Linked DNA regions of Homo sapiens. The protein of the gene in region 2 binds, or shares a complex with, the protein of the main gene of each other region. Each region holds a gene or a part of one and is shown on either strand. Other genes may lie near its edges.

Region 1 (5,239 bases), about 26 Mb from region 2:
TCCTTTTACTCTTGGCACACACACTTTCTGTTGACCCAGCCTGCACGCCCCAGAGTCAGTGCATCAGAACGCGCCCTGCTGAAGCTTGAGTCCCAGTCCTGGGCAAAGCCCTCCCTTGGTGGCCGCCCTTCTGGCTCTTCTACCTTGGTACAACAGCAGCACCATCCCTCAGCGCTGGGCACCTACTCTAAGCTCTGGAACAGTGAGACCTGATACGGATAACCTGGCCCGGGGCTGAGGGTAGAAAGAAGGAAAAAGGGAACCGGGAATTGACTTTAAAAGCTGCAAACCCGGAGATCAGGCGGGAAGGGAAAGGAGGCTCATGCCCGTCAGGGCTGTGATGACTCCCACACCCACCGTAAATCCTGGGACCCCTGGCCCTCGGGCTGCCTGCCATTGGAGTTGGCCTCTTGGGCACTGCAGACCTTGTCCATCTTTTCTAGCATTTGGGGACACACCTTGCCTGGATGATCAGCTGGGTGACACTCAAAGAAGGACACAGCACGGTTTTTAAATAACTTTATAATTTCCTGGTGGATTTAGTTTGTGAATAAAAAAGAAAAAATGAACAAAGTGTTTACAATAATTATCAAGGCAAAGTTGAATATAACACAATTTCTTTGTAATGTCATTATCCTGTCAGTAACACAACTCCAGCAGGAACACACACATACAGCTGAAGGCAGCGGGTGCACGTGCATCCCAGACACCACCATGGAGGCTGCTACTGTTACCAAAAGGAACTCAAGCTACAAGGGGGCAGGTGCTCCTCAGCTCCTCCACTAAAGTGCAACACTTCTCTTCTGACGCATCAGGGAGCAGTCACAGGCCCCACTGGATATCCTGCAATGCCCGGCAGGTGCCTGGGCTAGTCCTGCGATGGGCCAGCAGGCCAGAGTGGGTGGTGCTGCCCTCAGGATGTGTAGCTGCAGTAGATGGATGCAATACTGGCGTGGTGTGGAATGAGGGGCTGGACCCAGAGGGCCTGCTTTGGCCGGGGTGAATTCTCTGGCTTCAGTAGGGTTCACTTCCTTTCCTGACAGTGGCTTCTCTGGGGTCAAGAGAGAGCCTGGGCCTAGGAGATCTAGGGTCTAAAAAAGCTCAAAGGGAAATAATTGAGGGCCTGAAGCCAGAAGGAACTGACATGGAGGACAGTCTGTTCCACCTGGATTGCAGGCTCCAGGCTGGCCAGTGCTCACCCGTGCTGGGTGGTCACTGGAAGAGATAGCACCAAGTGGGCAGGAGAGGTCCTGTGGCCTGCCAGGCAGGGGCTTCAGGGTCAAGCCCAGGTTACCATGCAGTATTAGGCACACTGAGCTAGAACCCACGTCGGGTGAGGGTGGTTATGGGGTCACAAACTGTGAAACCTCTACCCAGAGGTCCTGAACATGTATAGGAAAATCCTGGCACAACTGCGAGGCTCTGAGCCCCAGATTCTCGTTCCTTTTGCTCGGCAGGTGTCTCTTGCCCAGGCAGGCACTACCCTAAGTGTGCTCCATGCTTCCTAAGCCGCCAGCCCAGGGCCACCTATGCCAGCCTGGGAGGAGGGGAGTGTGGCTGCCCCATAGCTTGAATTCCTTTATTAACAAGATATTGGTTTGCATTTTTAAAACACAGCTGTTTAATTTTTCATTTCTACAACTACGTTTTAATCTTTTAATAATCTCAACAACAGACACAATGTAACTGCCCCAATTCTCTGAATCACACAGACAATATCGACAAGCAGAGAAAGAAGAGAGGAGGTGGGATGGGACAAAAACCCGCTCCCCCAAATCAATCCCTAAAACCACTTCTCCCCCAAGAGTCAGGAGAAGTACCTACAACAGGGCCACAGCACTTGCCAAACACATTGGAAAAAATCAGGAGACAGTTGGTTACATTTTTGACACTAAAAAGTCTGGAGACGGTTTTTGCTGAAGAGTAGGTGAAGATAGCCATTTTGTTCAGAAGGATTTCCCTGTAATGTATGTCTTTTCTTGCAAGAAGAGTAGGTGAAGACAGCCATTTTGTTCAGAAGGATTTCCCTGTAATGTATGTCTTTTCTTGCCTAATTCTTCCCTAATTTGCATGGGGGAAACTCCAGATCCTCTTTAAGACATTCCTTTGAGTGGTTCACGTCCCCTCCTGAGCAGCCCAGGGCTGGCAGTGATGGACGGGCGGCCTCACTCTGCAGAGGGTGCCTGCTGCATTGCAGTCTCTTCTCATCCTTCCTCCTCAGTTCCGAACCCAGGCAGGTGAAGAGGAGGCCAGGAGCAGATGTTAAATTACTGGTATTTGCTGACACAGGGTCCGCTGGGCTTGAGAAATGCCATGTGGTGTCACACTCCACGCAGCGGTCTTCTCTGCTTGGCTCTTTCCTCAAAGACTCTGAGGGTCTTGACACCGGGCCTACACTCAAGTAACATGGTCAACAGGAGGGCGGGATGGTTCTGGGAGGAACAGGACTCTGGCAGCAAATCCAAATGCCAGTGGATGGGCGGCTCAGAAACATTTATATTTTGGGGTGACACATGATGGTTGCCTCACAACCCTGACCCTCAATAGCGGAGGGATTAGTTCAGCAGGTGGCTAAGACCGTGTCTGTGATGACTTCGCCTTCCTCTTCTCTCACTCTGGGGGTGGGTGAGCCCGCAAGTTCCTCATGGAAAACCAGACTTCAATGGACAGAAATTGAGGGGCAAGTCACAATGCCCTTCTTGACACTGAAGGCGGCCTTGGGTCCAGTCTGCTTTACAAGTTATTTCTAAAACCCAAGTGTGAGGAAGTCTGAGAGCCACAGGTAGATCTTTAGATTGTAAAGTGCAAGGACAAAGGTTAAAAGGTTAGAGCTGAGATGAATTTGGTGATTCCCATCCATATATATATATATATATATATATATATATTTTTTTTTTTTTTTTTTAAATGGAGTCTCTGTCACCCAGGCTGGAGTGCAGTGACACGATCTCGGCTCACCGCAGCCTCTGCCTCCCAGGCTCAAGCGATTCTCCTGCCTCCTGAGTAGCTGGGATTACAGGCGTACGCCACCACGCCTGGCTAATTTTGTATTTTTAGTAGAGTCGGGGTTTTTGCCATCTTGGCCAGGCTGGCCTCGAACTCCTGATCTCAGGTGATCCGCCTGCCTCAGCCTTCCAGAGTTCTGGGATTACAGGCGTGAGCCACTGTGGCCGGCCCCATCCATATTTCTTAAACATGTTAAAGCCCGTTCAAAATTTTTCCATTTCAAATGGTATCAAAGTCCTTGCAAATCTCAATTGAGATACCTCATCAATGATTCAATGAGTACCGGGGGTTAGAGGTATATGAAAAGATGAGAAGCTCACACTGGGCTTCTTCAGTTACAAAACCCCGTTGGGATCACACCCACTCTTCTTCGTGCCCTCTTTATGGTGACATTGGTTTGGGGTGCAGATCTTTAGGTGCTAAAGGGCAACTAGACTTGCCGATGGAGGGGTTTGGGGAAAATTAAGGGCAACCTGCACTGAGTTTTCAAGGCTATATAACTTCAGTAGCAGTTGTATGCCCATATGAAACCATGACCACTAGGAGAGGGGCATGGAATGACAAGTCCTAGTGTGATGGGAGTGGGACATTTGGTTAAGTGTTGGTTCAATGATCTAGACTCAATGAGACACTCTGAAAGCTACAAACTGCATCCACTCTGCCCTACAGCACGAAGGCCACGTTTATTACTGAACTCCTAGCCAGCCTCCAGTGCCCAAGAACGGTCAAGAAGATTCCTTGCTGTTCACAGAGACCAGACAGATGATATCGGTCCCGGAAATGCTTCTTCTCAGAAGCAGTGTCACAGAGGGCTTCCTTCCATCCGTTTTTCTGGAGGGGAAGTGATGGAGAATGCTGAGATGAAGAGGAGAGTGACACACCCAGTGGCTGAGAGTGGCAGGCGCTGCACCTGATGAGAAAGTCCACGTGGGTGGGATCTGGGCCACCTGCTTGGAGAGAGCAGCTGGCCAGTGCCCGTGCCAGACCACTTGTTTAGGCATGGCCTCGCCTGCTGTCTTGGTTCCACCGTGGCCCCGTGAAGGCTGTTATCACACCGCAGTTCTTTACGTTATGGTGGATAAAGCGAGATGCTAACACTCCTGCCTTTCAGTGCTGGGAGCTTTCTACATGGTTTACGGGCACTGCAATGAACAGAATTGAGGTAACTGACCACAAACGACCACCACTTACTATCTAACCCCTGCACCCCTCTCTGGCCAGCCTGGCTATCAGGAAGCATCTCAGTAAGAGGTTTATGAGCAGAGTCCATTTAACCTTCGATAAGAAACGCTCCACAGTTTCCTCTCACAGGGAGAGGGATTGTTTCACAGCAGGGAGTAGGGGGAGCTGGAAATCTGACCATGTCAGTTAATGGGACAGTCAAGGGCTGGTGGTGGGAAGTTCCTGGACTGATGGGGCTGTGCTGACTCTACAGACTTTAAATTCTCTGAGTAAGTGGGGAAGGAGAGGAGAAAATGCAAAACAAAAACATCGAGTCCAGCAACTCTTATCAGGAGATGTGAGTGTCTGCTGGGTTCTGGTGGTAGAGGTGGTCAAAGAACTAGATTTGGGTTAAGTTCCTGCCTAATTATTTATGACTGCTGTTGTCTACGCTACGTCCTTAACAATGCCAATACCTTCATTGATTTGCAGTCTTGGGGTCAGCTTTCTGATTTGCAACATGAAGCTGGCTGAATTCCACGAGGTACATGCAGATGTCAGGAAATGGCCACCCACAAGTAGATACTCAGAGCCCCTCTAAGGGCAATAACAAACAGCAAAAATCCAGAATCATCAAATGGAATCCTACAGGCAAGCGGGTGACTGAGACCCCCAAACTCATGAATTCCATTAGGGAACTTTTCTAGAAAACACACCTTAAGATCGGGGAGGGGAAGGACATGCTATTTACTGCTTCAACTCCAGCAGGTATGTCTCACAGAATCCACTACATCTCTCCCTCACTGAGAAGTGGCCTTTTCAAGGATGGATGACTTGCACACAGTAGGCATTTCATAAATATTCTCTGAATGAAATAACCGAGGAAGGAATGTGTGTAGGAGGAAAAACCTTCATTTATGCTAGAAGAAGGTTCCAGGCAATGCACGAGGCTGAGGTTCAGAGAAGACGAGTCAAGGGCAAAGCTAGCAGGGTGAGTGAGGGATCACAACTTCAGCAGCCACTGGGCTGCAGGAGCTCAGGACACGGGTGCTGGCAAGGCAGGCAGCCTCTT
Region 2 (7,356 bases):
GAGGTCTTCTTTCAGTTAACAGTTTGAAAATTATGCTGGTTTGGGATATAAACGAAAAGTTAATTTTAATGTAACAAATTATCAACATAATCTAAATTTACTTATACAAATATTTTATGAATAGGAAAGGTTTTAAAAGAAGTCAGCTAGTCAGTAACTGAGGGGAAAAATGACCTTGTTCTGATTTATCTCACGGTGGAACAGGGAGCTACAAAAAGACTACATAAACAGTTAATTAACTGTCCCTCGGTGAACTTGTTCCCAAAAAAATGTCAGTGATGCCCTTGAAATTAGGCACTATTGATCTGGAACTTCAGTGTGTCCTGGATTTCAAATCAACATTTATCCATTAAGGCCAGATGACCTTAATTTTTATTTTATTTATTTATTTTTGAGATGGAGTTTTGCTCTAGTCGCCCAGGCTGGAGTGCAATAACGAGATCTCAGCTCACTGCAACCTCCGCCTCCTGGGTTCAAGCGATTCTCCTGCCTCAGCCTCCCAAGTAGCTGAGATTACAGGTGCCCACCACCACACCCGGCAATTTTTTTGTATTTTTAGTAGAAATGGGGTTTCACCATGTTAGCCAGGCTGGTCTCCAACTCCTGACCTCAGGTGATCTGCGTGCCTCAGCCTCCTAAAGTGCTTGGATTACAGGTGTGAGCCACCAAGCCTGGCCGACCTTAATTTTTAAAGTTGCTCTTGGAAATATGACAGTTGTTGGTCACAGGAATTTAACCAAAAACTGATCCTACCTTTCTCAATAACTCAAACATCTTTTAAGTATTCCGTGTTTTCCTACACCATATCTGCCTCATAAACATGGACTGAGAAAGAGAAATATTGGTTTAAATTAAGTATGTAAAATTACTGCTATTATTCAAACTGTGAATCAAATTTAGAGTTTTGGTATATTCAAGTCCCTAAACTAGGACTAGTTTCTTGGAAAGAAAGTGTAAATCTGAATTTGGCACATAAGGATAACATCCTAAAGATACTCTTCTTTACTGAACCGTCTGGCTTTTGCAGCCCCATCTTTTGGTATTACAAATGCAGTTGGAACACTATCAGCCAAGGAACACTACCGTGAGTTCACATTAGCCCACAGGAACTCCACTCCACAGCTCTATCCTACTGAAAAAGTACACTGGAAAATACAGTATGTTTTATGTACTCCCCATAGAACATAAATAGAAAAGACTTGTTCACCATTATTGCAGAGCCATTTGCAATTTCTGTGTCTTAAGCCAAAATACAAACCAAAATTAAAATGTTGTCTTTCCAATAAAGCGAATTTTCCTTTCTCAAAAAGCCTGCTATTTTATCCACTCTATTTAATTTTTTCAGGAACTAACAACAATACAGACCCAGGTATGTCATAAACAACAGCACAACCAAACACTTCTTTCTAGTTCTGAAACCTAATGATCATTTGGCTAGAAAGATAGAGAACCCCATCTATAGTCCTCTATCCCTTTTCCTGACTTGGGTTTACTAGACCTACTGTTGTGGCTTCTTTCTTTCTCCATCTCCTGGAAATGCCTTTTCCCTTCAGGGGCCTGGGATACGGATTTTGACTCACAATGAAGTCCACTCCCATTTCCTCCAGACCTGGCAACAGTAGGATCCTCACTGCTGAGGAGGAACTTCGGTGAAGGAAAGGGGAAACTTGACTCAGGAGTCTCAGCGCTTACTTTTTTTTTTTTTTTTTTTTTTTCCTTCCTGCTCCAAAAGAGAGCCTTAAAGCACTGATGAGAGGGTCCTGAATCGGTGTATGGAGTCAATTTCCCCGCCCCCTCGAGAAAGTCAATCACACCCAGTTAGTGACCTGGGCACACAAAATCTCCACATAGGAAAAAGACAGGGTTTGAAATAGGAAATAAACAAAAATCAGAATTCTATTCTTTCACTTCTTAAAAGTATCTTTTTCCTCCCGCAATTGCTTTCTCAAAATACCAAACTTGGACTTTGAAATCAAGTTCTTTTTCTATTGCTCTCCGCAGTTCTTACTGAAAGCAAGGATTTGTTTTGGTCCCACATGTTGAAAACTTCACGTCCCTATAATTAAGAGTTTATATGCCACGCCTTCCACCGCGTTTCCCTGTTAAAACTCCCTTCTCTAAAAAAGATCCCTGAAAACACAACTACCAGCTCGCCCCTCAAGCAGCCACAGGAAACAGATCTGAAGATTCTCAGCAGCCATCCTAACCTCTCCAGATATAAAGCTGGCAGCTGAAGGGATTTCTCGGTTAAAATGAGTGAATACTAGTTGCAGTTTTAGAAGTGTGCCCCCAAGAGACGAGTTTTCCCGCAAGCTCATAATTAATAAACACCCCAAGTGAATTTCTCACATCCTGACTGGATTACACAAAAGGATATTTTACATTGATATATAAGACTAACATTGATATTCTTTTAATATATAATAGGCCACAAGGAGACAAAAAAATACAAAACTTTTTTTTTCTTTTCAACGAGCATAATTTTTGAGTCGATGATCCATAATTTTTTGTGGCATTTTTAAATGCCTCAATACACACAGACAGAGAGACACACACGCCCCTCTGGTTGGGGTTCTCAGGTATTACCGGGAGCCTAGGGTGTGGGGGTCTAAGGATACAGACAAGACCTAAACGTCCAATCCTGGAGTATTCTTCACGTACAAGCTCGGTCCAAGCCCCAGGAGTTAAGCCCTACCCCTCCACCCCCACCACCCCCAAAAAGTGCCCGTTCCCATTGGGAAACAGGAGTGAGTTGCACAAGGAAATCGACCCGGGGAAGAGGAGGAGCAGCTGCAACAGCCAGCTGCAGCCACACAACGGTGCCACTTCCCTCCCGTCTGGGAGTGGAGCAAAACGCCCTTACCTGGGGGGTGGAGAGCCGCCGGCACTAGTTCCAAAAGTTCTGGTCCACCTCCTCTCGGAGTTCAAAGCCCCAGCACTCCGGCCCGGCCGCCAGCTCGCAGCACACGAGTCCTTCCCCGTCCTTTCCCCACCCTGCCTGCACTACACCATGTCAGGAATCCGGGCAGGCACCGAGCTGGGAGCTGACATCACTCCCAGTTCCAGGTACCTCCCCCTCCCACTGCCGCCCTTCTCTCCTCCCTCCCTGCAGGAATCAGCCAAAGAGAGTCAGCAGTGGGGCGGGGCCGGGGGCGCCTGCGCGCCCGCTGATTGGAGCCGGGGAACGTCACTCAGAGGAGTCCACTAATTTTATGCATTCCTCGCTGAGCCAGACTAGGGCTGGAAGTGGGTGGATGGAAGAAAATGCTGCCCTTCCTGCTATCTCTAAGGAACGGAGATAATCCGATGGGGAAGAACCTGGCGGGTCGAGTTTTAAACTTTTCTTGTTGTAGTTACTGAGATTCCAGATCAGAAACGAAACTAACCCACGCGAACCCCCTTTTTAAGGAGAAACAATTGCCTCGGTGTCACAGGCACACGGGCATGTACAAGCCCGGCGGCGCGTGGTGTAGAAAATGGCTAGCTTTAAGCCATGCAAATAAAGGAAAACGTCAGCTCACCCTTCTGCCCTTTTATCCTGGGACTGCTGGGTGTTCCCTTAGACGGGGAATGTAGAACTTCAAAAGCACTTCAGAAAGATTTGGAAGAGACTCCTGAAAACGGTGACCGAGCTTTGAATTGTTAAGTGGTGGTGTTGTCAGCCATGTGGCTGCTGTTGCTTTTAGCGATGAAAATCACACCACACAAGCTTCTCGGGCAAGTAAAATTGAATCTCTGAAGCAAGAAAAATGTATTTCCCCGTTTAAAGACCTTAAGGCTGCTGTTTCAATGCACACACTGAAAAGGGTGGAGGAAGGAGGGACCTCACAATTGAGTTCCACAAACCACATGAGAATAATTACTGTAGAATGGAACCAATTGTAGTGGCTGAGCTCTCAATTAAGAATTAACTAACGTTTATCCTTGACAGATATCATGCGGTATAATCCCCTTGGCTGACAGAAGAAAAAGATTCTCAGAAAATGGTTCTTTCAAGGCAGATGCTGCTTACAGGCAGACCTGAATGGTGAAAAGCAGCTTTATTTGTATGAGATATAGGTAGCATATAACCCACCATCTTCTAAAAATATAGTGAATTAATAACTTTCTCTTTTTTTTCTTCTTTTTTTAAACAGGTCACTCTGCCACCCAGGCTGGAGTGCAGTGGCATGATCTGGCTCACTGCAACCTCCTTCTCCTGGGTTCAAGTGATTCTACTGCCTCAGCCTCCGAGTAGCTGAGACTACAGGCGCCCACCACCACACCCGGCTGATTTTTGTATTTTCAGTAGAGACGGGGTTTCCGCCATATTGGCCAGACTGGTCTCGAAATCCTGACCTCAGGTGATCCACCCTCTTCGGCCTCCCAAACTGCTGGGATTACAGGCGTGAGCCACCACACCAGGCCTCATTGTTTTTTGATTGATGACATGCCATACATTTACCGATCTGCCAAAAATTGTAGAGGGATGCACAGAATCCAGCATTGTGTCTTGTTTAATCTTCTCAATCATCCTGTAAATTGAGTGTTACTAGCCCTATTTTAACGTAAGGAATCAAAGGCTCAGCAAAGTTATGTAAGTAAATTTCTCCAAATCAGCTAGAACTTGGATTGAAACCGAGGTCTATTTGACTCCAAAGCCATTGATTTTCTTTCTATATCTCAAGTATTGAGTGTCCATAATTTATACTTTTTCAAACAATAGAATGCTACAAGAAATCCACAGGCTTGGGCCACTGCTCTCACAGACCTACTTTATATAATTACCATCTTGTTGCTTGTCAGACCTGCAGTATTCCAAACTCCTGACTTGAATTTCTGACTCCAGTTTCCCCCAGTTCTAATTATTTCTCTGTACCACTCACTACCGATGAGTTTTCTAAAATGTTTGGTTTTGTCATCAACATCTTCCCCTCTAAATCAGGTCCCCCTTTCCCTGCAATTCTTATCTAGCCATTTAAAACTCTCTCTTATCCTGCTTCTTACCTTTCCCAGCTTATCTCCCACTTCGCTCCCAGGAAACCCTCTCTGTAGTCAAACAGGTCTACTCACAGATCCCTGCTTCGTTCTCACCTTTCAGCCTAACCGAAATCCCCACTCCTCTGTGGGTTAAGTCCCACCCTTCTCTCAAAGCCTAATTAAATTAAAGTCCTTGTCCTCTGCCAAGACTTAGCTGTGTGTTACAGTGGACAGAGAAAAGGACTCAAGGTTCTTGGCCTGGCTCTGCCACTTAGCTATTGGGTAACTTTGGGCAAGTCACTAAAACATCCATCCCGAATCTCAGTTACCTCCTCTTTAAAATAGGGCTGACAATACCTATGTTAAAGGTTGTTATAAGGATTGAGATTGTACAGATGTGTAAACATGTGGTTATACATGTCCAGTTAAATGCCTTTCCTGCCTTCCCAAACTCTGAAGAGCAAGCATCTTGCTTATAGGACCTCTTTATATTCCTTATACCCAATTCAAGGAAAAGGCTCAATAAAAATATAGGGCATGAGAAAATAGATCATTGTATCATTTCTATTCTCTTCCATTCTTTAAATGCAGTCTATCCCCAAATAATCTCTCAGACAAAAACTTTAACTGTTTCTTCTTGTTCTTTTTTTCCTCTCTCTTTCTCTCTTTTTATGCCAGAAGGGCCAGAGCCCTTCTGTTCTCCCACACCCCTACCCACCGTTCGTTCAACACCCTTAACTTCCTCAGATCACTTCTGGACCAACTACTTCACCTGTCTCTTAATTAACTACTGACCCTTCCCTGTCCCACAGTCAGGGACACAACTTGTCCATCAGTGTCTGTTGCCTGCCTTGCTCCCAGATGCCTTCAAACGGAGGCTGGGTGGCTACCAGCCATTCCTCCAGCCCTAGTCAGGACGGCTGCAGCCAGGCTCACATTTTTCCAAAACTACAGCCAGCCACAGGAGATGGGGGAGGGAATGTCCCACCCCCACAGAGATGGCAGGATAGAAAAACAGGAAGTCGCCTCCCATCCTTTCTGCAGCTGGAGTGATAACAGCTGCCATCCAGAATCCAGAAAACAAAAGACTCAAAGGGAAGGCTGAAAACGGGCCAGGTCTGGAGCAGTAACATTCAAGCTAGAGGTTACAGAGTGGGTGAGGGAGGAACCAATGGTTGAGATTTCAGCCTCCTTCTACCTCCCTTTAACCAGAGTTACAGCTCTTTTATCTGCTCTACATTTAGGCTTCACCATGATACTTCATTTTTTGAAGACAGTGTAACCCTTAAATAAACATACTGAAATCACTGGCCTCTGGGTGTCTTGGGGAAACTCCAAAAAAATCAGGATAGTGCAGCAGAAGCAAGACAGGATGCCTGATGAGCAGGTAGCCAGAACTTACTCCTCACTATCCCGGCTCCTGGCTGGCTTAGTGCAAATGATCATTTATGATTCCTATGATTTCAACGCTAATTTATTCTGTAGGTCTAGATATTTTCTGCCTAGTTATTCCTATGACTAACCTTACCTTTGGTAACTTTTTGCCAAAGAGTATCACTATTGCGGGGTAGGGAGCAAGAGACACTGCAGAGCAGGAGAACACCTGCTCAATTAGAACTTGAAATGGATCCTAAAAGTCATTTGATGCAACCACTATTAAAATGCAAGAAACCCTTCTTCAGCATTCCTTACAGGTAGCTTCCAACCCCTGCTTGAACTTATCTGGCAACCAGTAACACACAAAATAAGCAAGCAGCCCACCATTAAAGATCTTTCTCGGTTGGGCGTGGTGGCTCACGCTTGTAATCCCAGCACTTTGGGAGGCCGAGGTGGGCGGATCACCTGAGGTCAGGAGTTCGAGACCAGCCTGACCAACATGGAGAAACCCCGTCTCTACTAAAAATAGAAAAAAAATTCGCCAGGCGTGATGGCGCATGCCTGTAATCCCAGCTACTCGGGAGGCTGAGGTGGGAGAATTGCTTGAACCTGGGAGGCTGAGGTTGCGGTGAGCCGAGATCGCACCATTGCACTCCAGCCTGGGCAACAAGAGCAAAACTCCATCTCAAAAAAAAAAAAAAAGGGATCTTTCTCATATCCATCTGGATCCTGCTTTACTGACTTTCTCCCCAAAGACATCTGTCTTGTGTCTCATTTAATCCTCACAAACATCCTGTAAGGTAAGTGTTATTAGCATCATTTTGACATGAGGAATCACTCTCCAGGGTTATACAAGTAAATTGCTCCAGATTCCCCCAGAACTGGGATTGAAACCAAGGTCTATTTGATTCCAAACCTATTTTGTCTTTCTGTGTCTGAAGCATTGATTGTCCACAATTTACACTCTCACTTCTGCCCTTTGCAGTAACAGAACAAGCTGACTCTTTAGTTACACCATCC

Evidence for each region.
Region 1: PPFIBP1 (region 2) and ERC1 share a complex: the UniProt entries of both Homo sapiens proteins name them as parts of the cortical microtubule stabilization complex.

Annotation. Positions count from the first base shown.
Region 1 is NC_000012.12:1,491,198-1,496,436, reverse strand, and holds the end of ERC1 (ELKS/Rab6-interacting/CAST family member 1), read right to left. Parts: 3' UTR 506-5,239; downstream 1-505. UniProt on the Homo sapiens protein: Regulatory subunit of the IKK complex. Probably recruits IkappaBalpha/NFKBIA to the complex. May be involved in the organization of the cytomatrix at the nerve terminals active zone (CAZ) which regulates neurotransmitter release.
Region 2 is NC_000012.12:27,519,873-27,527,228, reverse strand, and holds the start of PPFIBP1 (liprin-beta-1), read right to left. Parts: upstream 3,024-7,356; 5' UTR 2,864-3,023; intron 1-2,863. UniProt on the Homo sapiens protein: May regulate the disassembly of focal adhesions. Did not bind receptor-like tyrosine phosphatases type 2A.